7 linked regions of the Homo sapiens genome follow. The protein of the gene in region 3 purifies or fractionates together with the protein of the main gene of each other region. This does not show direct contact. Each region holds a gene or a part of one and is shown on either strand. Other genes may lie near its edges.

Region 1 (2,399 bases), on a different chromosome or scaffold from region 3:
GCCAGCACGCACAAGTCGTAGGCACGGCCCGCCGCCAGGTCATTCACCAGGAAGGTCTGACTGGTGGACGGGATCATCCTGTAGGAGGGGGCGGGTTCAGGGCGGGGTTAGTCCCCCCGAACCACGCCCCTTCGCTTTATGCCCCGCCCATGGTGAACAGTGGGGACTAAACCCTGCTATCGAAGTCTCAGCCGCTACTGAGACAACAGCAGCAATTCAAGCCCCGCCTCCATCAACATATTCCCACCCTTTCACACCCCTCATCTGTATGCCCCGCCCTCAGACCCACCTCCTGGCTGTGTCCCATCACCCACTGGGACAATATATCTATCATTCGTATTACCTCCTCTGCATATCCCGGCCCCTGCAGGGGAGAAGTGCTATGGCTTTTAAGCCCTGCCCTCAAGGGACATGCTCCCTAGCTATGTCTCACTCTTGCTAGGACAACTGCCATTCAAGGTCCTTCATCTAGGCATTTCTACCCCAAAACTGGGCCAACGCTACTGGCCACCTCCCCTTTTCTGCATGCCCCATCCCCCACTCAGGTGGACACTAAGGTCAGCTCACAGCGCCTGTCATATTCCTACTGGAACAATGGATGCTCTTCTAGTTCCTCTTTTATACATATTCCTGCCTTTCAGGGAAAACCATGATGCAGGTCGCTCCCCCTTATCTGCATGCAGCACCTTTGGGTAAAACATCTAGCTTTGGCCGGCTGCAGTGGCTCACGCCTGTAATCCCAACACTTTGGAAGGCTAAGAAGGGTGGATCACCTGAGGTTAGGAGTTCAAGACTGGCCTGGCCAACATGGTAACCCTGTCTCTATTAAAAATACAAAAATTAGCCAGGCGTGGTGGCAGGCACCTGTAATCCTAGCTACTCGGGAGGCTGAGGCAGGAAAATCGCTTGAACCCGGGAGGTGGAGGTTGCAGTGAGCCGAGACCACATCATTGCACTCTAGCTTGGGCTACAAGACCGCAAGACCGAGACTCTGTCTCAAAAAACAAACAAACCAAAAAAAAAAAAAAAAAAAAAAAAAAAAACCATCTAGCTTTGTCTATGTCCTGGAACAGTTTCCAAGTCCCTTAACTACATGTTCCCTGACATTGCTACAGGCCATTCCCCAACCAAATGAAATGTGGCTTCCAGGCACACCCCACAATGGCCCACTAAGGATGGTTCCCCTACTGTGTATAGGCCACATCCAGACTACAGGCCCTGCTCCTTGTCCAGATATTAAAGGCAACCACCTCATATGTTCATGTGCCACCAGAAGTCACCAAATCACGCTACCAGGTAAGTTTCTTCCGTAAAGGGGTCAAACGTAGCCAAGCACACACCATATTCCTTTCTTGCTGTAGGCCCCTCCCCTCGAATGAAGACTAGTGTAGAGAAGTGGTTAAGATGACAAAGGCTGGGGGCCAGATTGCCCGGGTTTGAGTCTCTCCTCTGCCACTTGCTTGCTCTGTGACCTCAGGCAAGTTTCTCTTTTGTTTCATTTTGTTTTGTTTGAGACAGACTCTCGCTGTGTCACCCAGGCTGGAGTACAATGACGCGATCTCGGCTCACTGCAATCTCTGCCTTCCGGGTTCAAGTGATTCTCCTGCCTCAGCCTCCCGGACAGCTGAGATTACAGGCACCCACCACCACACCTGGCTAATTTTTGTATTTTTAGTAGAGATGGGGTTTCGCCACGTTGGCCAAGCTGGTCTCAAACTTCTGACCTCAGGTGATCCATCCGCCTCGATCTCCCAAAGTGCTGGGATTACAGTCATGAACCACCACGCCCGGCGAACTTCGCCAAGTTTCTTAACCTCCCTGTGTCTCATTTTCCCCAAATGGGGATGATAATAATTCCTACATCATAGAGATGGTGTGAGGAATGAATGAGTTAACACAGCCAGGACCTGGCACTTAATGATATCATCATTAGCTTGCATCACACCTCGTGTTGGCCAGTAACCCTTGCTGTGGCTCACACTATCCAGCCCATTGCATTCCTCCCATCTATAAGATCTACCCCTCTGGAGGGCCATTCCTGCTAGGCCTTGGCCCTCTTCTGTTGAGCACATCGTTTCCACACTGTGGGCCATGTCCAGCCTCAGCTAAACCTGGACTGCCCGTTCCACATTGATTGGCATGGCCAGGATGCAACCTCACAAGCTCTCTTCTCCAGCAAAGACTCTTGGTGGGTCCCGGGAGACAAGGACTGCCCCTTCCTCTTCGTGGGACCATGCAGAACAAGCTCCACCCCCTCTGACAGGCCACATCCCCACCTCCGAAGGCCTGCTTATCTCTCCGATGCTTCCGCTTCCCCTCCAGCAGAGCCACCTTCTGGCCCTGAAGCTCCACCTCTGTCATCCCACCTCCAGGAGGTTCTCCCACTACCAAGAGCCACC
Region 2 (3,500 bases), on a different chromosome or scaffold from region 3:
TGCAAACGCATGAGTTTTATTTTAAATAATGGGATGCCAACAATGAAATGTAATTATGCTAGATCTTCTTCATTAAAAAGCAGTATCTTAGTAGAAACCTATATTTTAAATTTTTTATTTCCATAAAATAACTTAAAATTATTAACATTTTACCAAGTTCTAGCTCCATCTTGATGAGGATTAAACAAAATGGGTTCTTAACCAGAATGGTCATTTATTTTCTTAAAAAAATATGAAATATGGAATGCAAAGTATATGGCACAGCTGATTAAACTGTTGTTCCTTTTAAATTAGAAGTTAACAGTACATTTTTTTTAACTGATCCTTTCCTCCTCTGTGGCAAAACGACTACTTAAAACAGAAGTGAGAAGAGCGAGGGTAAAAAAATATATACATAAGGTTTAAATCTCTAAACTAAAACCTGGCTTAATTCCGTACCTATTAGACACTAAAATTCCTCCACCACCAGTAAATAATATGCAGGAGCAAAACAAATATACTTTGAAATGTTAAACAGTTTCCAAAAAGTGTGTATTCAATGAAAAGAAAAATAATATTTCTAAAAGCCAGGTCATAAGAGATAACTCAGGTGGAAGAATAGAAAAAGCACTGAATTTAAAAGTAAGAAATCCTAGGTTTCAAATTTTGGCTCCACTACTTAAGAGTGAGGAGTCAGAAGTCATTTCCCTTCAATTAACTTCAATATCCCCACTGGTAACAGGAGAATAAAATCTCTCACAGATTGCTGAGAATTATTTTTACATACTCTTCTAAAAGTAACTAGCACATCTAAATGTTTTTAAAAACTACACCACTGGCCAGACGCAGTGGCTCATGCCTGTAATCTCAGCACTTTGAGGGGCCAAGGTGGGTGGATCACTTGAGGCCAGAAGTTCAAGACCAGCCTGGCCAACATGGTGAAACCCCATCTCTACTAAAAATACAAAACTTAGCCAGGCATGGTGGCAGGCACCTGTAATCCCACCTACTCTGGAGGCTGAGACGGGAGAATCGCTTGAACCCGACAAGCAGTGGCTACAGCGAGCCAAGAGCGCACCACTGCACTCCAGCCTGGGCAATACAGCAAAACTCTGTCTCAAAAAAAATTAAAATTAAAATAAAAAAAAAATTTAAACATAAAATTAGTTACTAAAGTTACAAAATGTGACCACACAGAGCCCATGAAGCTTATGCTTCATTACTTTGACAGTCAATCTACCTCTCTGGGCAGCCAATATGAATAAATTTCTTATTGTCTTTACTTAGCAGAGATATAAAATTCTACTCTCCAACTCTTTCTGGAAATATAACAAAAGTTCTCCAGATCAAATAATCATCAATAATAAGCAAAACTAATAAATGTAAAAAAATGATATTGTATAATATACACCTGCAGTTTTGAGATTTGGGAGGATAAAACTGGGAATCTTATAATCAAAATACATTAAATGATAGTCTTGTACAATGTAATAATAATGCATACTCATAGAATTCTGGACAAGAAGATCACAATTATGAATGATTCTCAGTCCTAAAGAAAATTGAAAGTCCTTTCAAAGGATAATTAAGGAATTGTTTTGCACAGGAAAAATTAAGTCTGGATGATTTATTAGTTATCAAAAGGAACTAGTAGTTATAGAAATTCAAATTGAAAAAAACAAGACTTTATCAAGATTCCACATCTTCACACACCAAATGACTAATTAAAAGCCCAACATGGATATTGAAACCACCAATAAAGCAACTTAGAATCTACAATCTTCATTTATTCTACAATTTAATAATCCAATTAGGCCAGGCGTGGTGGCGTGCCAGCCTAGTTGGCACTTTGGGATTTTTTGGGGTGGGTCACCTGAGGTCAGGAGTTCAAGACCAGCCTGGCAGACATGGTGAAACCCTGTGTCTACTAAAAATACAAAAAATTAGCCAGGCATAGTGACAGGTGCCTATAATCCCAGCTACTCAGGAGGCTGAGACAGGAGAATCTCTTGAACCCAGGAGGTGGAGGTTGCAGTGAGCCAAGATCGCCACTGCACTCCAGCCTGCGTGACAAGAGCAAAACTCCATCTGAAAATAATAATAATAATCCAACTAATTAGAAAAAGTTACCAAGGCCAGGGACAATCTTTCTTTCCAAAATCATCATCAGTCACAGAAGATACAAGAAACTGGCTGTCTTTAGCCCACTTCTGGATACAGGGCATGTGAAATATACAGAAACATCCCGAACAGCTCCAAACCTAAGACAAATGTATCAGAAGTTAATATATGTTAATTTTTCTTTGTTAATTGTAAAATAATTTAAAATGAGTATCACACTAAACTATTTTCAAGAGCTACCTAAGGATTAAAGAAAAAAGGTCTTTCCTTCCAGTATAACAGAAGAACTGTTTCATGGGAAATGCATTTAAATGTAGGATACTTCGAAGAAAATTATTATTAGTCAAACAGATTCATTCAGCTAGAAATAATTACTGCTAACATTCTGGACAATCTCCAAATTTATATATATATATTTTTTTCATACTTTTAAAAAATGAGGTCATACTATAATAACTGAAATGTAACTTTATAGTCTTTTCTATAAGCATATTTATAGCTATACATTACACCATGTAGACTTACGTACTTAAATTTCTTGTTGGATGATTATTTCCAAGTATAAATAACACTACAAAAGAATCTTTAAACATAAATATGTACATATATCTCTACACAGCCCTTTTGTTATATAAAACCTATTAGTCTAACACCTAACTAATGCTAAATTCTAAAAATTAGGTAATCAAAAAACAAGAATATACATAATTTAAAAGCTTAAGAAATAATACTAAATTAATTTTTAAAACCTGCCAAACACTTTGATAAAACTGATAAAAATCAGTTCCCCTTTCCTTATAACATTTTACAACTGTTTGATAAAATCAGACATGTAGCATATCGCATGAGCTAACAACAGCATTAAACAGCCGACTTCTTAGTTTGGGTTACCCCCAAAGCGGTATCTAAGAACTTGGATGCAGGAGTAAGGGGACTAGACAGGGAAAAAGAAATAACCAATGAATGGCATATGGTTGAGCTGATTACCACTAAGGGCCACAGAAGCTCAATCCTCCAGGGGACCCTCTGTAAAACCATGTAAAACACGCCTTGGACTGCCCAGCCCCACTCGCTAATGGAAAGGAGGTTGGGGCATTCACCTACCAACTCCCTGTGGTGCAATGTTGCTGCAAGGGGCTTTAACTCCCCAGTGCTTCTGCACTATACCCATGTACTAGCTAAGTCAATTTCCAAGAACAAAATTGAGAGGCGGAAAAAACGCACACACACAGCAAATGTTTAAAGTGGGTTTCTATCTGCATGCAGAGACTATGCATTCCCTGCAGCTGAAATCAGAGTAAACCAACTAGATGTGACTCTAGGCACAAAAGGCATCTGTATCTGCTATACTCTTCTACCCAACCAGAGCATGTTAAATTTCTGATTCACTCTACATGACC
Region 3 (3,500 bases):
AGTGAGGGAGAGATGGGTAGGGAGCTCAGTGAAGGCCTCTCTGAGGAAGGGGAGATGCAGCAGAGCCCCCCTTCGTGGGGAGCAGCCAGGCACTTGAGGTCCGGAGGGAGGGAACCCCAGCAAGTATGGTGTTTGGGGCGGCAAGGAGCCACTGGAGGACCAGCCAGGAGGCCTGTGGTCGGAAGCATGGGCGTGAAGGCCCATGTCCCTGCCACCGCTTTCCATTTGCAGGTAGACATTGAGCTCAATGGGGAGCCTGTGGACTTGCACATGAAGCTTGGGGACAGCGGGGAGGCCTTCTTTGTTCAGGAGCTGGAGAGCGATGATGTGAGTCTGCCCTCCTAACAGCACCTGCCCCGCCCACCCCTTTCCTGTGCCTCTTCTGGGCAGAGCCTTGGGATTTGTCACCATCCTCGCCCTTCCCCGGGAGCACCCCACCAGCAGAGGTCTGAGGCAGGGGTATCAGTTGGGGCTGGCCTCTGGCACACGTGATATGCTGTGGGGGCCCAGAGGAAGAGGCCAGGGTACCAACTGACTCTATTTACTGGGAAGTTGGGGAAGGTTTCTCAGAAGACTGGACCCCTGAGCTGGGCCCCTGTGGGATGAAAAGGAGGCCTTCCCCAGGCAGCTTGAAGAGGAGGCGGGAGCTGAAGAAAGGGGCTGGGAAGTATAACATCTGGCTTGTCCTGGGTCTGGTGCCAGCTCCGTGTGGCTGGAACCTAGAAGTGTGTAAGTGGTGGGTGTTCGCACAGGGGAGGCAGGGCCCAGCAGAAGCCAGCAGAGGAGTTGAAACAGAACTTGAAAAACTTTGAGTCCCTACTGTAGGCCAGACACTGTGCAACAGACTCAGATGACGGGTGACCCCTGCCTTCAAAGAAAGTTCCAGGCTGTTCTGGGAGCTAGACACATAAACAATGGATGATGAGCCGTTTGGTCATTGCAGTGAGGGATGTTGGGATTGGGAGAGGGATAGTCAAGGCTCCTTCCTGGAGGAGGAGACATATGGCTGAATCTTAAAGCAGAAGTAGATGTCTGCTGTCATAGACTTGGGTAGAAGAGGAGATCAGAGGCCGATGCCAAGATCTCTGCCTGGCCTGCCAGGGTGGCAGGTGGCTCTGTTGGGGACCTCTGAGGCCAGCAGTGGCTACAGGGCCAGGCTGGTGCCTCCACACCTGTTTTCCTGACCCTAAATGAGCTCACTCCAGGGCTGGGACCCAGGCAAGGCTCAAGATGACTGTGTGGTGAGCGCAGCCCCACTAGGGTCAGCCCCCGACCTCAGTTCTTGGTCTGTTCCACAGGAACATGTGCCTCCCGGCCTGTGCACCTCACCCATCCCTTGGGGGGGTCTGTCTGGCTTCCCCTCGGACTCCCAGCTGGGCACTGCCAGTGAGCCTGAGGGCCTCGTCATGGCAGGCACGGCCTCCACTGGGCGGAGGAAGAGGCGTCGCAGGAGGAAACCCAAGCAGAAAGAGGATGCAGTGGCAACTGATTCTAGTCCAGAGGAACTGGAGGCAGGCGCTGAGAGTGAGCTATCCCTGCCGGAAAAGCTGAGGCCAGAGCCCCCAGGGTGTGTAAGGACCAAGGGACTTGAACCCCAGTTTGGGGGTTCAAGTGCTGTTTCCTCTGCTCATGCTGTGTGACTTTGGGCAAGGGCCTTGACCTCTCTGAGCAGTAGTTGCTTCACCTTACCAAGCCCCTGATGTCCAGGCTCTCATGCCTGCCTGGGGCATCCTGCCTGATCAGTGACCATTTCCTTGTGGCCCCTTAGCAGTGTCCAGTTGGAAGAGAAGTCTTCACTGCAGCCCAAAGACATCTACCCCTACTCGGATGGCGAGTGGCCCCCCCAGGCCAGGTAAGAGTCCAGGTGGGCTGCAGGCCAGGACTCCAGATCAAGGTCTGAGGTTTCCATTTGCATTTTTCCTGATGACTAATGACACAGGACCCATTTAATGTGTTTACTAGCCATTCGTATTTTTCCTTTGTAAAGAGTTCAAGTCTTTTATTGATTTTTTTAAATTGCGGTAAAATATACATAACATAAATTTACCATTTTAACTATTTCAAAGTGTATACAGTTCAGTGGCATTAAGTACATTCAGTGTTGAATGACCATCACCACTATCTAGTTCCAGAACATCCCATCCCCCAAATGGAAACCCTATGCCCATTAGGCAATCCAGCTACAACTTTGCCATCTTCTTTTTTTTTCCTTCCTTCCCTTCCTTCCTTCCTTCCTCCCTCCCATCCTTCTTCTTACTGGATTGTCTTCTTCTTGTTGATTAGTATAAGTTATTCATATATTTGTATACTCTTTAGATCTTTACATATTCCTTATATATTATGGATTCAACACAGGCATAAATATAGGTTGCACATATTTTTTTCCCTGGCTGGGGTGGGCAGCAGCGGGGATGGGTAGGCAGGCTCAAGGCCTCTCAATATGTCTCCTGCAGCCTCTCAGCAGGTGAGCTAACATCCCCTAAGAGCGACTCGGAGCTGGAGGTGCGGACCCCGGAGCCCAGTCCCCTAAGAGCCGAGTCCCACATGCAGTGGGCCTGGGGGAGGCTGCCTAAGGTGAGTCCCTCTGTATCAACCCCAGGCCCGGCCTTTCAGGGGCTCTGTGGCCCCCATGGGTCAGGGTTGGAGGGACTGAAACTCGGGCCACTGCCCCAAAAGCTTTGTGGGGCATGGGCCTTACCCTGGCCCACATCTTCCTCCATTTGTTCCACTAAAGGTGGCCAGAGCTGAGCGGCCCGAGTCCTCAGTGGTCCTTGAAGGCAGAGCTGGGGCAACCTCTCCTCCTCGGGGAGGACCCAGCACTCCCTCTACCTCTGTGGCTGGCGGCGTGGACCCTTTGGGACTCCCAATCCAGCAAACAGAGGCTGGTGCCGACCTTCAGCCTGACACAGAGGATCCCACTCTAGTGGGTCCCCCTCTCCACACCCCAGAGACAGAGGAAAGCAAGACTCAGAGCTCTGGGGACATGGGCCTCCCTCCTGCCTCCAAGTCATGGAGCTGGGCCACTCTGGAGGTTCCAGTTCCCACCGGGCAGCCAGAGAGGGTCTCCAGGGGGAAAGGTGAGTGACGCTGGGTCTCTCCCACTGCCTCCCTGGCCTCGCTCTGTCCCCTGGGTGGGTGCTGGGACTTCAAGTACATTTTGAGCACCTGCTGTGTGCTAGGTGCTGTTCTTGGCACCAGCCTCATGAAGCTCACAGTGCAGTGTGGGAGACAGATGCTGCATGTGTGGAAGGGCGTGCCACAGGCATAGTCATTGGTTGGAATGGGAGCTGTTTAAACCAGGTGGTCAGAGAAGGCCCCTCCGAGAAGGTGATGTTGGAGCTAAGACATGGATAATGAAGATTCAGCCAAGTGAGGAGCAGGGGAAGGGAATTCTAGGCAGAGGAAACAGTATGTGCCAGGGATGTAAGGCTGGAGAGAAGTTTCATGTCCAGAAACTGAAAGCAGCTGGCGTGCCTTGAGCAAGAAATGGAAGACGGCCG
Region 4 (3,500 bases), on a different chromosome or scaffold from region 3:
CATTTTGGATAATGGAGATTTGGGTCTGCCAGGAAGCTGACTGACGCTTGTTTCCTGCTGATAGCGCACGGGTGAACCAGACTGGGATCTATAGACACTCATACTTTCAGCTGGAGGGCTGGCCCGATACTGAGGGCCTCTCCGGAGAGGGGAAGGGGGAGGGCTTGGGTATTCTTTGCCCTGTCCTCCCACAGGAGGGGGGCTGAAACGGTAAGATCCTCCCTGATGAGCCGGGGAAGTGTGTGGTGGGCTAGGCCTGTAATGTGAGTTCTGATGAGTTGGAGAAAGGGCAGGTGAGGTGGACTGATAGGTCTGTCTAGTGGGAGAGCCTACAGAACTACTGGACCGGAAGTCAAAAACCTGATGAGAGCCAAGAGGTGAGCTGGAGATGTAGGCTGAGTCCCGATGCGGGGGAGAGGAGGGTGGGCTCTGGATGACCGGGAGCCCCTGGCTGGGCCGGGCCTCTGTCTGGAGGCCAATGGAAACATTTTCAACATCCTGTTCCAGGTACTCCTCCTCGAATATATCCTGTACAGAGTATATGTCTTCATGCTGTGGCTCAGGTTCTGCTTCTTCCGGCAACTGCTGCTGAGGCTGCGGTGGCGGCGGTGGCTGCTGTGGCTGCTGCATCTGTCTACACTCTTCTTCCACTCTCAGCAGAAGTCTCTGGATCTCACGGTTGTTGGGACACAGCTTGATGGCCTCGTTCAGGTCCTCTAAGGCTGCTGCGAACTGTCTGCTTGACAAAATGTGAACACAGGAACTGGAGTTATTCTGAATCCAGAGAAATCACCAAGAGCTGAGAACATGGTCACTATCTCAGAGAGCTGTGGTGGCGTCTGTGGGAGTCTGGGGTATTTCGGTTTAGTTGGATTTATAGGGAAGGAAACAGGAAGACTCATTCTGGAAGAGTCCGAATGATTCCCTAACCCATTCGGCCTCCATCTTCCTTCTGGCCTCTCTGGGAATAGTGGAGAAATGCCCCATTTTGTCAGTCCAGCCAGGCCCTTCGGGAAGTTGTTTTGGTGCCCAAACACACACCAGGCAGTATGAGAGTTGGGTGGGGTTGTCATTTACAGGGTCACTGTCAAGTAGCTTAGGAACAAAAAAAACTACATATTTAAAAATCTTGCTGATCCAGCAGAAATTTTTCTTTATATTCTCAATATTTTAGCTCCAAATTTCAGGCCTGTTCTACTCTAGGCAAGAACCCTGTCCTCTGCCCTTTCTAACCCTCATCTCTCAGAATTGCTGTGTCTCCATTTGCTCTATCAAAGTGGGGCAGGCATTAGGCTTGCTGACTAGGTCACTCGGGGCTGGAGCTGAGCTGACTCCAAGGAGACTCTAATTTACAAATGAAGAAATGAACTGTCAGAGACATTCCCATCTTCTCTACTAATATCACCTGACAGGGGCAACTGACCTTGTGAAAAAGGAACTACCCAGAGGGAAGGAGAATTTCAGTCAGATTTCTGTGAGGACTTCGTTGCCCCAGCTAGGTAAGAGTGCGATCACTGCCACCACCATCACTAGCCTCAAGCTGGGTGTGATTTTCGGGACCATGTGCCCCTGGCCATAGCAGTGAACCTGAAGCAGTTCTTTCCCATGCAGCTGGGGAGGAGGAGGGCAGGAGGCATAAGAGACAGTGACAAGTTACACAAAGATCACTGATGGCAGGTTCTAGGTTATTCTGGGAGCTTTTCTGCCCAGTGGCCAAACTAAAGCAGATGGGCACAAGGAATGTGGAATGGTGTTCTCTTAGAGGGTCCTCTCCATCCTGGCAGCAAGGACCTCTTGACTCTGTGTGTGTGTGGTGGGTGATGGTTTAGGTGGAAGGGGGTCTGATGCCACCAGACTTGAGGAGAGCCCCAGAGGGAAGACTAACTAATCCGGGATTCCTCAAACGCCTATGGGAGAAGGAAGAGGAACCTGTGATGTTAAGTGAACCATCCTACTTTCCCTCTAAAGCGGGGGTGGGGTGCTCTGCTTAAGTGATTTCTTTAAGTCGCCGTTGTCTCTTTGTGCTAGCTGCTCTGGGGGTTGAAAAATGCCTGAGATACGGCAGAGGCTTCTTGGAAGAAGCTGCCATTCTCCAGTGAAAAAGTGTTTTTCTCCCGAAGTGAAACATTCGTGGCCTCCACAGCCCAGCAGATTTGCTGATCTTGAGCTGAGGGCTGTGCTATGGGAGCCATCCCCAAAGCTTGGCCCTGACAGTTCTCAAGGACAGAGATGTATTTGGGTACATATGCCCCAGGGTGGCCGACGCTGCCTTGGCCAAATTTTCAGAAAAGAGACCTCTTGCTTTCACCCTCTCTCTCTCTCCTCACCTGCTGCTGCGTTTTGCCCTTGCTCTCGCATAGTAAGCTTCATAAGATTTCGGTTTCAGCTCCAGGGCCTTAGTAGCAAATTCCTCCGCCATTCCAAAATCCTGTCATTACAATAGGTGTGCAAATGAGTCATTGATGAGATATAAAAAATAGACAACTTGGGAATAAAACAAATTATTTGTACATTTTTTGACATTCATGGATGGAACGCCTGGGACGCTAGACGTGCCTGACATGGCTCAAGCCGCGTGGCCTGTGGACTGAAAGTTCCTTCTGCCTTTGTCCTGTGTAGCGCTGCGACTGCTCACTGGACTTTATCTGCCCAGAATATTAAAATAGTTTTAATTTTCCCTCTTTTTGCCTTTCTAATAAAGTTCTCAGCCCGGAAGCCAAACACCAACCCTTTCCAGTGAAGCTCCTGAAGTTATCCATGCATGTAGGAGGCAAACGCACACATGTCCACATTTCACGTGGACCCTGGTCTGAGCCCCACACCTTCCTGCTACATGCACTACACTGTGGCTTTCTAAGGGACAGGTGAGAAGGTGTCCTGTAAAGTCCGGGAGGATGACGTCTGTAAAGGAAACTGCACTGACTACAGAGACTAGAGGGAGAGGGGGTGTCAGACAGACCTGGGTTCAATTCTCTGACCAGCTTCATAACCCCCAAGTGTATAGTGTATTTTCTCATCCATACCTACCCCGGGGGTAGGATCAAGTGTGATACAGTATTTAAAAGCCCTGCACAGTTCCCGGCACATAGTAGGTGCTCATTAATTATCGTTTTCTTTCTATTTCACAGAGGCTTCTCTGATCTGTTCCTTTTTTTAACTGGTTCCTTACTTAGGAAACACTTAAAATTAAAAATAAAACAAAACAAGAGAAGACCCCAGCTGTGACTGAGGTCTGTGCTCTCCCTAGAGGAACACGCTCACAGGCATGTCATTCCTGAGAACCCCTGGAAACAGAGACTGGGGGGTGGGGTGGGGAACAACGCCGACTAGGCAGCCTATGGTTTTCAGTATTCCCTTAAATACTAAGCTAAAAGAGAAGGCTTTCCCCTTCTTTTAGTGTCAAAGCCACAGTATAGCATGGTAGCCTCTGGTTATGGTCATGAGTCCTAAGGCAGAAAACAAGGCCTTGGGCAGAACAAAGGCCCTGGGGCATAGGTAAA
Region 5 (3,500 bases), on a different chromosome or scaffold from region 3:
TGGAAGGGCCTCATCTCCCTCTGGCCACATGATCTCATCTAAAATGAGGGAGGGAGGTAAAATGAGGGAGGGAGGGAGAAGGCAGGGTACCCCTTTCTAGTACCATCCACCATTTCCCCTCACTTCACTGTACTCCAAGCCACTGGCCTCCTCTGCCCCTGCAACGTGGCAGGCTTGGTACCCACTGACAGCCTTTGCCACAGCTGTGCCCTATGCTCAGAGCCACCTTTCTCTTTTCTGTCTCTATGGCTTTCTCTCATTCTCAGGTTCTTGCAGGTCTCTGCTCACATGTCACTTCTTTTTTTTATTTTTTGAGATGGAGTCTCGCTCTGTCACCCAGGCTGGAGTGCAGTGGCACAATCTCAGCTCACTGCAACCTCTGCCTCCTGGGTTCAAGTGATTCTCTTGCCTCAGCCTCCCAAGTAGCTGGGATTACAGGTGCCCGCCACCATGCTCGGCTAATTTTTGTATTTTTAGTAGAGATGGGGTTTCACCATGTTGTCCAGGCTGGTCTTAAACTCCTGACCTTATATGATCCTCCCGCCTCAGCCTCCCAAAGTGCTGGAATTACAGGTGTTTGCCACTGTGCCCAGCCTCACAAGTCACTTCAGTGAAGCCTCTGTGACCCTATAATTAATCCAGCCACCCGCCTCACTCAGCACCCCACCGCCTCCCCACCTGGCATCCAACTCCCTCCCCTCTTCCTGCTTCTCTCCCTGACATGCGGGTGGAGGACCGCTGCCCAGAGCTCTGGTGGGGCTGCAGCTCAAACCCAGGCCCGTGGAGGAAACGCACCGCTGACCACCTGACCGAAGAGTTCCTCGGGGGTATCTCCAAAGAAAGGCACGCAGCCCACCAGAAACTCATAGAGGACGACGCCCATGGCCCACCAGTCCACTGGCTTCCCATAGCCCTGGCGGAAGATCACCTCGGGGGCTATGTACTCCGGCGTCCCACACACCTGGGCCAGGGAGAACGGGGAAACTGAGGCCAGCCCCCAGCCCAAGAGAGGTCCCAGGAGAGAGGAGGAGGCATCCCGGGGCTGCCCACCCACCTGCCCGCCCACCTGCTTGTCGATGAACTCTCGGGCGTCCTTCTCGATGTGGCCCTCATAGAGGTTGGTGGCCATGCTCATGAGGCCGATCTTGGACAGGCCGAAGTCCGTGAGCTTGATGTGGCCAAGCGAGGTGATGAGCAGACTGTGGGCAGGTTAGGAGTGTGCTCAGAGCTGGGGGGCTGGGGTGCCTGGCCTCCCCTTCTGCCCTAGACCTTGGCTCCGCCTGAGATGGGCAGAGCTCTGCCTCCAACTCCTGGGCCCTAGCGATCCTCCTGCTCAGCCTCCCAAGTAGCTGGAACTACAGGTGCACACCACCACACCCAGCTAAGGTTTTTTTTGTAGACATAAGGTCTTGCTATGTTGCCCAGGCTGGTCTTGAATTGCTGGCCTCAAGCAATCCTCCCACCTTTGAAAGTGCTGGCATGACAGGTGTGAGCCAGCATGCCTGGTCTCTACTGTGTGTGCGTATATGTGTGTGTGTGTATATATATATATATTTTTTTAGTGTACTTTTAGTAGAGACGGGGTTTTGCCGTGTTGGTCAGGCTGGTCTTGAACTCCTGATCTCAGGTAGTTCACCTGCCTCGGCCTCCCAAAGTGCCGGCACAGAATTGTTTCTTTACAGAGCTGGAGCAAACAGGAGGTACTGACTACATAGTTCATTAAATGATGGTTATACACAGTGAATTCTCTGGAATGTATTTTTAAGTGGCAGATGCACCCAGAAGGTGCACGGAAATGCGACTTCATACAGCTGGTGCATAAGACACTATGATGTAGCAAAACATTTATATATTTAAGTCCATAGGAAAACCTAAACAGCAGTATATACTGTACTTGCGTGAGAGTTTTAAAAATGAGTTCATTTGCCGGGCGCAGTGGCTCACAACTGTAATCCCAGCACTTTGGGAGGCCGAAGCCGGCAGATCACCTGAGGTCGGGAGTTCAAAACCAGCCTGACCAACATGGTGAAACCCCGTCTCTACTAAAAATACAAAAATTATCTGGGCGTGGTGGCGCATGCCTGTAATCCCAGCTAATTGGAAGGCTGAGGCAGGAGAATCGCTTGAACCAGGGACTCTGAGGTTGCAGTGAGCCGAGATCGCACCACTGCACTCCAGCCTGGCGACAGAGTGAGACCCCGTCTCAAAAAAAAAAAAAAAAAAAAAAATTAGCTGGGCGTAGTGGTGGCGCATGCCTGTAATCCCAGCTACTCGGGAAGCTGAGGCAGGAATATTGCTTGAACCCGGTAGGCGGAGGTTGCAGTGAGCCAAGACTGCGCCACTGTACTCCAGCCCGGGCGACAAAGACTGTCCCTGTCTCAAAAAATAAATAAATAAATAAAGATAAAGTGTTCTGGGCCAGGTACACAGTCATTGCCTAATAACTGTTCTTCTGCCTATTTTGTATACACCTGGTGCCTAACAAGTACATGCCAACCAAGAAAATGTGATATAGAAACCCAACGTTAGTGTGTAAGGAGTTATTCATGCTTCTGAGTTCCTTAGAGCATCGAGCACAGGCCCAAGTATACAGCAGGTGCCACATACATGTCTGTTTTCTAAGCCACTTGCCAACTGCAAAATGCCCTGAAAACATGCGAGGCGCTTTTTTTTTTTTTTAAGATGGAGTCTCGCTCTGTCGCCCAGGCTTGGGTGCAGTGGCACGATCTTGGCTCATTGCAACCTCCGCCGGGTTCAAGAGATTCTCCTGCCTCAGCCTCCTGAGTAGCTGGGACTACAAGTGCGCGCTACCACTCCCAGCTGATTTTTGTATTTTTAGTAGAGACAAGGTTTCACTATGTTGGCCAGGCTGGGCTTGAACTCCTGACCTCAGGTGATCCGCCCGCCTTGGCCTCCCAAAGTGCTGGGATTACAGGTGTGAGCCACCAAGCCTGGCCTACATGCAAGGCTCTTAACACTCATGTTCACATCTCCACACATGTATGTGAGAAATGTCAGTTCTTGCCTCGTATCTCGAGGACACCTGACAAACAGGCATTCCTTTTTCCCTGCACACAGCAGGCGCTCAATAAATGCAGAGGAGAAAATAATACAGGGGTTTCAAAGCAGGTGGCCCTGTGTCTCCCAGTTGCCCACAGAGGGTCTGGCATGCAGTAGGTGCTTACCACCTACCAGAATAAAATAAACATCCTAAGGCTCTCAGTAAACACGTTCTCTTCCTTGCTTTCCTGCACTAATATACAGCAGGTGCTCAAGACATGCACGGTCACTGTCTTTACATGTAAGGTCTCGCAAATTGCATAATCCTGTTCTGTGTGTGTAGTTGGTGTCTTATAAGTGCATGTTCTCTCCCCTTGTGCAGCAGCAGCTCTGGGTGCGCAGCCCCTTCTCCTGTATACAGTGTGTGCATCCTAAGTGCACATCCTCTCCCCTGGATTGGCAGCACCTCCATAAGTGCACCGGCCTTCCCCTGCATACAG
Region 6 (3,500 bases), on a different chromosome or scaffold from region 3:
GTTCCTGTGACACAGAATGGAAACTCCTAGGCAGTGGTTTTGGTGACTGTTTAAAAACACAAATTCTTAGTCTCACCTACCAGATACCAGTTCAGTAGTTGGGGGTGTTAGTGCACGGCCAGGGTTAAGACCCTTCCCCTGGTGTGTTGACAGGGAACCCCTATAATGTCCTGGACTTCTGTAGACCCAGAGGCATGGAGTCAGGCAGTTTGTGCATGAGCCACGCCCCTCAAAGGAGACTGATAGGGGTCTCAGTAATCTTTTTTTTTTTTTTTTTTTTTGAGACGGAGTCTCGCTCTGTTGCCCAAGGTGGAGTGCAGTGGTGCAGTGACACGATCTTAGCTCACTGCAAACTCCGCCTCCCAGGTTCATGCCATTCTCCTGCCTCAGCCTCCTGAGTAGCTGGGACTACAGGCGCCTGCTACCATGCCCAGCTAATTTTTTGTATTTTTAGTAGTGATGGTGTTTCACCGTGTTAGCCAGGATGGTCTCCTTCTCCTGACCTTGTGATCCACCCGCCTTGGCCTCCCAAAGTGCTGGGATTACAGGTATGAGCCACCCCGCCTGGGCTTTTTGTTTTTTTTTAATGAGATGGAGTCTCACTCTGTCGCCCAGGCTGCTGGAGTGCAGTGGCGTGATCTCAGCTCACTGCAACCTCTGCCTCCTGGGTTCAAGTGATTCTTCTGCCTCAGCCTCCCGAGTAGCTAGAACTACAGGTACACACCACCACACCCAGCTAATTTTTGTATTTTTAGTAGAGATGGTCTTTCACCATATTGGCCAGGGTGGTCTCGAACTCCTGACCTTGTGATCCTCCCACCTCAGCCTCTCAAAGTGCTGAGAGATTACAGGCGTGAGCCACCATGCCCAGCCAGTAATCTTTTTTTTTTTTTTTTTTTTTGAGACACAGTTTCACTCTGTCACCCAGGCTGAAGTGCAGTGGCACAATCTCGGCCCACTGCAACCTCTGCCTCCTGGTTCAGGTGATTCTTGTACCTCACCTCTCAAGTAGCTGGTATTACAGGTGCCCACCACCACACCCAGCTGATTTTTGTATTTTTAGTAGAGATGGGGTTTTGCCATGTTGGCCAGGCTGGTCTCGAACTCCGGACCTCAAGTGATGATCTGCTCCACTCAGCCTCCCAAAGTGCTGGGATTACAGGCATGAGCCACTGCGCTGGCTGGTCTCAGTAATCTTGTGTGCTTGTGTTCTCGGCATTTTCCAGTTGCAAATGAGTCTGGAAAAAAAGGAGAAGAAGAAAAAGAAGGAGAAGAAAAAGAAGCACAAGAAACATAAGCACAGAAGCTCGAGTAGTGATCGTTCCAGCAGCGAGGATGAGCACAGTGCAGGGAGGTGAGCATGTGGCGACTGGCCTCCCTTCTCGTTGATTCACTTGCTCATTCACTCATTCATTCCACAGACATGAACACCTGCCCTGTGCTGGAAGCTGCCAGGTACTGGGCATTCAGTGATGAACACTTGAACATGGGCCCAGTGCCCACAGAGCTTGCCATCTAATGCTAGAGTTCCTTGGAGATGCTAAATGTGAGTGGGTATCTTGGCCATGCTGCTGGAGAGAGACCCTTAATAATGCTGACTTTAGCCTAGTAGGTCTTAGGTAGGTCAGACATCCTGGGGGTGACTCTGTTTCATCTCAGCTTAGGATTCCTTCAAGACTGAAGTGGGCTTTATATAGGCTTTTTTTAATGGACTGATGGCTGATGTGGGCCCATTTTGCATGTCTTCCTGTGGAAGCAGTCAGCTCCGCCGCTGCTGAGTCACTATTTGTCCCTGGAATAGCAGCATGAAGTGAGAGGAGAAGGTGTTCAGGCGTTGGGGCTTAGAAGCGAGGCCCACAGTTTTTCACAGGAAAATTTGATTGTGCTGATGCATTTTTCGGCATAGACAGTCCAAATAGAGAAACGTACTGCCAGGTAACTGCTGGGAGGCGGAAAGGTCACATTGGAGGCAAGAAGCATAGTTCAGCATAAGATATTTAAATTGGACCTATATATATTTTCTTTTTCAATGAGTGTGTGTATTTTGATCTCTTAGATCACAGAAGAAGATGGCAAATTCCTCCCCTGTTTTGTCCAAAGTCCCTGGATATGGCTTACAGGTAGGGATGTGGGCTTCTTGAAAGGAGTGACTGTGGGACTGTGGGATGTGCCACTTGGACAATGTGGATAGCAGGGAGGTGGGCAGTGAAGCCTGGGCTGCTGGGAAACAGGCCCATTCTTATCGCTGAGCACCTTCTTGTGGCTGATGACCCTCTGAGCAGAGAGACTAAACCACCAATGGGGCATTGAGACATTCTACCCATCCCTCTACAAATAATTTACATGAAATGCACACATTTTAAGTGTATAGGTTTTTTTGTTTTTTTTTTTTTTTGAGACGGAGTCTCGCTTGTCACCCAGGCTGGAGTGCAGTGGCGCGATCTCGGCTCACTGCAACCTCTGCCTTCCGGGTTCAAGCTATTCTCCTGCTTTAGCCTCCCGAGTAGCTGGGATTACAGGCGCCCACCACCACGCCCGACTAATTTTTGTATTTTTAGTAGAGACAGGGTTTCGTCATGTTGGCCAGGATGGTCTTGAACTCCTGACCTCAGGTGATCCCTCCGCCTCGGCCTCCCAAAGTGCTGGGATTACAGGTGTGAGCCACCGTGCCTGGCCTAAGTGTGTAGGTTGATGATTTTTGACAAACATAAATCTGCTGGGTTCTTTTTTTTTTTTTTTGAGTAGCAGTGCATCATTATTTTGCCTAGGCTGGTCTCGAACTCCTGAGCTTAAGCAATCTTCTGAGTAGCTGGAAGTACAAGTTCAAGGCACCTGGCTTGACTTCTGTATTTCTGTATTTTTTTTTTTTTTTTTTGAGGTGGAGTTTTGCTCTTGTTGCCCAGGTTAGAGTGCAATGGCGCGATCTCAGCTCACCACAACCTCGACCTCCTGGGTTCAAGCAATTCTCCTGCCTCAGCCTCCCGAGTAGCTGGGATTACAGGCATGCACCACCATGCCCGGCTAATTTTGTATTTTTAGTAGAGACAGGGTTTCTCCATGTCAACCAGGCTGGAGTGCAATGGTGCAATCTCAGCTCACTGCAACCTCTGCCTCCTGGGTTCAAGCGATTCTCCTGCCTCAGCCTCCTGAGTAGCTGGGATTACAGGCACCTGCCATCACACCTGGCTAATTTTTGTATTTTTAATAGAGACAGGGTTTCTCCATGTTCGTCAGGCTGGTCTCAAACTCCTGGCCTCAAGCTATCCGCCTGTCTCGGCCTCCCAAAGTGCTGGGATTATAGGCGTGAGCCACCATGCCTGGCCTCATATTTCTGTATTTTTAACCTTGGGTCCTGTCCTCCATGCTTCTGCATCTCGCTCTTCCTTAACCTATAGTGAAGAGCTAAGCCAGGTGTATTCTTTTCTTTCTTTTTTTTTTTTGAGAGGGAGTCTCGCTCTGTCGCCCAGGCTGGAGTGCAATGGTGCGATCTCGGCTCACTG
Region 7 (2,548 bases), on a different chromosome or scaffold from region 3:
CTGGTTGTAAAGGAATGTGCCTCAAAAAAACAGGAAGGAAATCAATACCAGATCTATTCATTTAAAAAGCTAATGGATGGAACCCATTACTATTGATTTTCAATTAGTATGATGCCCTATAGTTTTGTTTTCAGTAGTAAAGGTATACAGTTTACGATTTAACCTTAAAAAGAAATAAAAGACTTATGCTCAAGTCATTTGGCCAAAAGATCAACAGGCTGCTCTTTGAGGGCCCCAGTTTAAGCTAATAAGGAAAGCTAGAGTCTGTAAACATGTTTTCCATTCTTTTTTCCTCCTGTACCAATAGTGCTTCCTAGGCTCCTCATAAATCTTCTAGAAGAGGAATAAAGCCACTTATACAAACTTTGCAGTTATAAACACCCTGACTTTTGATATACAGAAAGAACCAATACCAACACAGTCCACACAGAAGGTAGTGCAATAGTTACATGGCATTTTCCACACAGAAAAAAATATTTGAAATTGAAGCACATGCCTAGGGAGAAAAAAATACTGAAACTCAAATTGTTTGGATCCCTTTTTGTAATGTTTGCCCAAATAATATTTACATAGTGAAGAAAACAAAATAGGAAGGTGTGTTTGATCAGTTCTTGTTCAATTCTTACTGTCTGGAGGTAAAAATCATATTCTGAAAAACAAGCAGAGCCTGAACAGAGCGGGCACGAGGCCAAAAACAGTGCTCTGGAAGGTCATTCTGTAGTTATTTTCAACAGGCTATATAACATGCCAATCATTATGCTTATCATAAACAGGCTTAAATTGAAATTATAACTGAATTTCTAATGAGTTCTTCTTGGCTAAGGGTGAAACAAATGACCTGAATGCTGATGAACATTTTGAGTTTTTGAGTCACTTATTTACAATTGAGGGCAGGCTTAATAAGAAGATTCATCTTCCCACGAATGAACTACCTATATATTTAATATATTTTGGTAACATATTTTCTTTGAATTATTATCAGGTATTATTTGGTAAATTATAGATAAAAAATTCACCTACACTATTTTAAGTCACTTTTCTGTTTTCAATTTGCTTCAAATGCTAAAATAATCTTAAAAAGCAATGACTAATTTTCTGAATGAATAAATTTTAAAGACAGAAAAACAACGACTTCTGTGCTGTTAAGAAATTTAGTCAGTCAGAGGCCACAAGTCTATCTATAAACTATTAACCAAATTTGAACGCTATCTTACTCTACGCAAACATCCATTAATGTTTAGAGCCGAAAGTATCAAAAACATCTTCCAGCTTAGCTCTCTCCCTTTGGCAAAACTATGTGATGTCAGGCTCTGACTTCCAACTGCATATTTCCACAGATATGGTTAACCTACAACATTTCTACGTTAGCTTATTATGACAAACAAATGAAATAAAAAAAATCCACAGGGTTCTCATTCACAATACTTTTTAAAAAAGCACATACACTGTTAAAAACGCTATTTCTGAAGAGAAATAAACAAATTAAGAAATTTTTAAAAATGCAAAACAAAAGTAAGATGTGCAAGGTCTACGTAGTAATACTGCTGGCTATGTCTTTCTATTACCCAACATGGGTTAAGCTTAGAGCATTAATTGAAAAATCATTCAGGACAGGAAACTTTTGTCCTCTCCAGCCTGTGTCACTAAACCCCAGAAATAATGGTATTTCTGTTACATAAGAAGCATATTTGAACTCTTAACATCTTTTCCAAACAGAATACTAAATTAAAAAACTTAACACTCAAAAAAAGCTCTTCTCTTTTCCTTTGGATGGATTTTAAGCTAATTATTGTATAAGCAATATTTTCTATTGAAGTTTCATGGACTCAAGGGCAAAATACTTATAATAAAAAAGTATAAAATTCTCTAAGAATACGAATGTGAGAAATTTTATGTGAGGCCCAAAGTAACAGAAGTCTATTAGTAGATATCAGTCACAAAGCATTACCTTACTCTAGGCCACTGCTAAAATTCATTATGTCTCAAGAGTTTATAACATTCGACATATAGCCTTTGTTTGAGTGTCATTTTTCATTAAAATTCTAAGGCATCTTACCTTCAAACTTTTTTTTTAATAATTCAACATTTACTTTAGAAATTAAATGCATCATTGCATAGAAGAGTTCTCATAAAACTGCTTGGTCAACTACTGACAAAATACGGTTTCATGTCAGAGACCGACAGTAAATTTTCAGAAAAATGTTTTGGTATGTTTATGGTAAATCATACAAGTATAAAGTTTAGATACTTAAAATTTCCAGAATCTGATATTTTCACCTTTATCCCTCTTAAAATTATTTTGTATGTCTTATAACAAAATATATACATACATCTCTATGTGTTACCTTTTAAACAAATATGATCCTGAATCTCATATTGAACAAAAAGAGAGAAAATGAATAATAAAAAAATAACTCTGGCATTATGCACATCAAACACTGTAAAAGAAAATATCCTGACAAAATATCAGTCTGTCTTGATGATAAAAACCACCTATGACTGGGAGAAGGGAAAACCCAATTAACTTGGAAAAAGATCTAATTATTGT

The links.
Region 1: the proteins of LPIN3 (region 3) and LRFN1 purify together in Homo sapiens (affinity purification with mass spectrometry, with the first as the bait; one large-scale study listed by BioGRID). This does not show direct contact.
Region 2: the proteins of LPIN3 (region 3) and NFXL1 purify together in Homo sapiens (affinity purification with mass spectrometry; one large-scale study listed by BioGRID and IntAct). This does not show direct contact.
Region 4: the proteins of LPIN3 (region 3) and TANC2 purify together in Homo sapiens (affinity purification with mass spectrometry, with the first as the bait; one large-scale study listed by BioGRID). This does not show direct contact.
Region 5: the proteins of LPIN3 (region 3) and MAST3 purify together in Homo sapiens (affinity purification with mass spectrometry, with the first as the bait; one large-scale study listed by BioGRID). This does not show direct contact.
Region 6: the proteins of LPIN3 (region 3) and CWC25 purify together in Homo sapiens (affinity purification with mass spectrometry, with the first as the bait; one large-scale study listed by BioGRID). This does not show direct contact.
Region 7: the proteins of LPIN3 (region 3) and RALGPS2 purify together in Homo sapiens (affinity purification with mass spectrometry, with the first as the bait; one large-scale study listed by BioGRID). This does not show direct contact.

What each region holds. Positions count from the first base shown.
Region 1 is NC_000019.10:39,308,465-39,310,863, forward strand, and holds part of LRFN1 (leucine-rich repeat and fibronectin type III domain-containing protein 1 precursor), read right to left. Parts: intron 79-2,399; coding exon 1-78. UniProt on the Homo sapiens protein: Promotes neurite outgrowth in hippocampal neurons. Involved in the regulation and maintenance of excitatory synapses. Induces the clustering of excitatory postsynaptic proteins, including DLG4, DLGAP1, GRIA1 and GRIN1.
Region 2 is NC_000004.12:47,901,084-47,904,583, forward strand, and holds part of NFXL1 (NF-X1-type zinc finger protein NFXL1), read right to left. Parts: intron 2,241-3,500; coding exon 2,110-2,240; intron 1-2,109.
Region 3 is NC_000020.11:41,347,321-41,350,820, forward strand, and holds part of LPIN3 (phosphatidate phosphatase LPIN3), read left to right. Parts: intron 1-231; coding exon 232-327; intron 328-636; exon of another isoform or gene 637-729; intron 730-1,298; coding exon 1,299-1,567; intron 1,568-1,768; coding exon of another isoform or gene 1,769-1,771; coding exon 1,772-1,852; intron 1,853-2,453; coding exon 2,454-2,574; intron 2,575-2,734; coding exon 2,735-3,077; intron 3,078-3,500. UniProt on the Homo sapiens protein: Magnesium-dependent phosphatidate phosphatase enzyme which catalyzes the conversion of phosphatidic acid to diacylglycerol during triglyceride, phosphatidylcholine and phosphatidylethanolamine biosynthesis therefore regulates fatty acid metabolism.
Region 4 is NC_000017.11:63,417,235-63,420,734, reverse strand, and holds part of TANC2 (protein TANC2), read right to left. Parts: intron 2,429-3,500; coding exon 2,328-2,428; intron 740-2,327; coding exon of another isoform or gene 737-739; coding exon 1-736. UniProt on the Homo sapiens protein: Scaffolding protein in the dendritic spines which acts as immobile postsynaptic posts able to recruit KIF1A-driven dense core vesicles to dendritic spines.
Region 5 is NC_000019.10:18,132,278-18,135,777, reverse strand, and holds part of MAST3 (microtubule-associated serine/threonine-protein kinase 3), read right to left. Parts: intron 1,200-3,500; coding exon 1,067-1,199; intron 962-1,066; coding exon 796-961; intron 39-795; coding exon 1-38.
Region 6 is NC_000017.11:38,808,322-38,811,821, reverse strand, and holds part of CWC25 (pre-mRNA-splicing factor CWC25 homolog), read left to right. Parts: intron 1-1,226; coding exon 1,227-1,354; exon of another isoform or gene 1,355-1,546; intron 1,547-2,056; coding exon 2,057-2,120; intron 2,121-3,500. UniProt on the Homo sapiens protein: Involved in pre-mRNA splicing as component of the spliceosome.
Region 7 is NC_000001.11:178,917,244-178,919,791, reverse strand, and holds part of RALGPS2 (ras-specific guanine nucleotide-releasing factor RalGPS2), read right to left. Parts: 3' UTR 1-2,548. UniProt on the Homo sapiens protein: Guanine nucleotide exchange factor for the small GTPase RALA. May be involved in cytoskeletal organization. May also be involved in the stimulation of transcription in a Ras-independent fashion.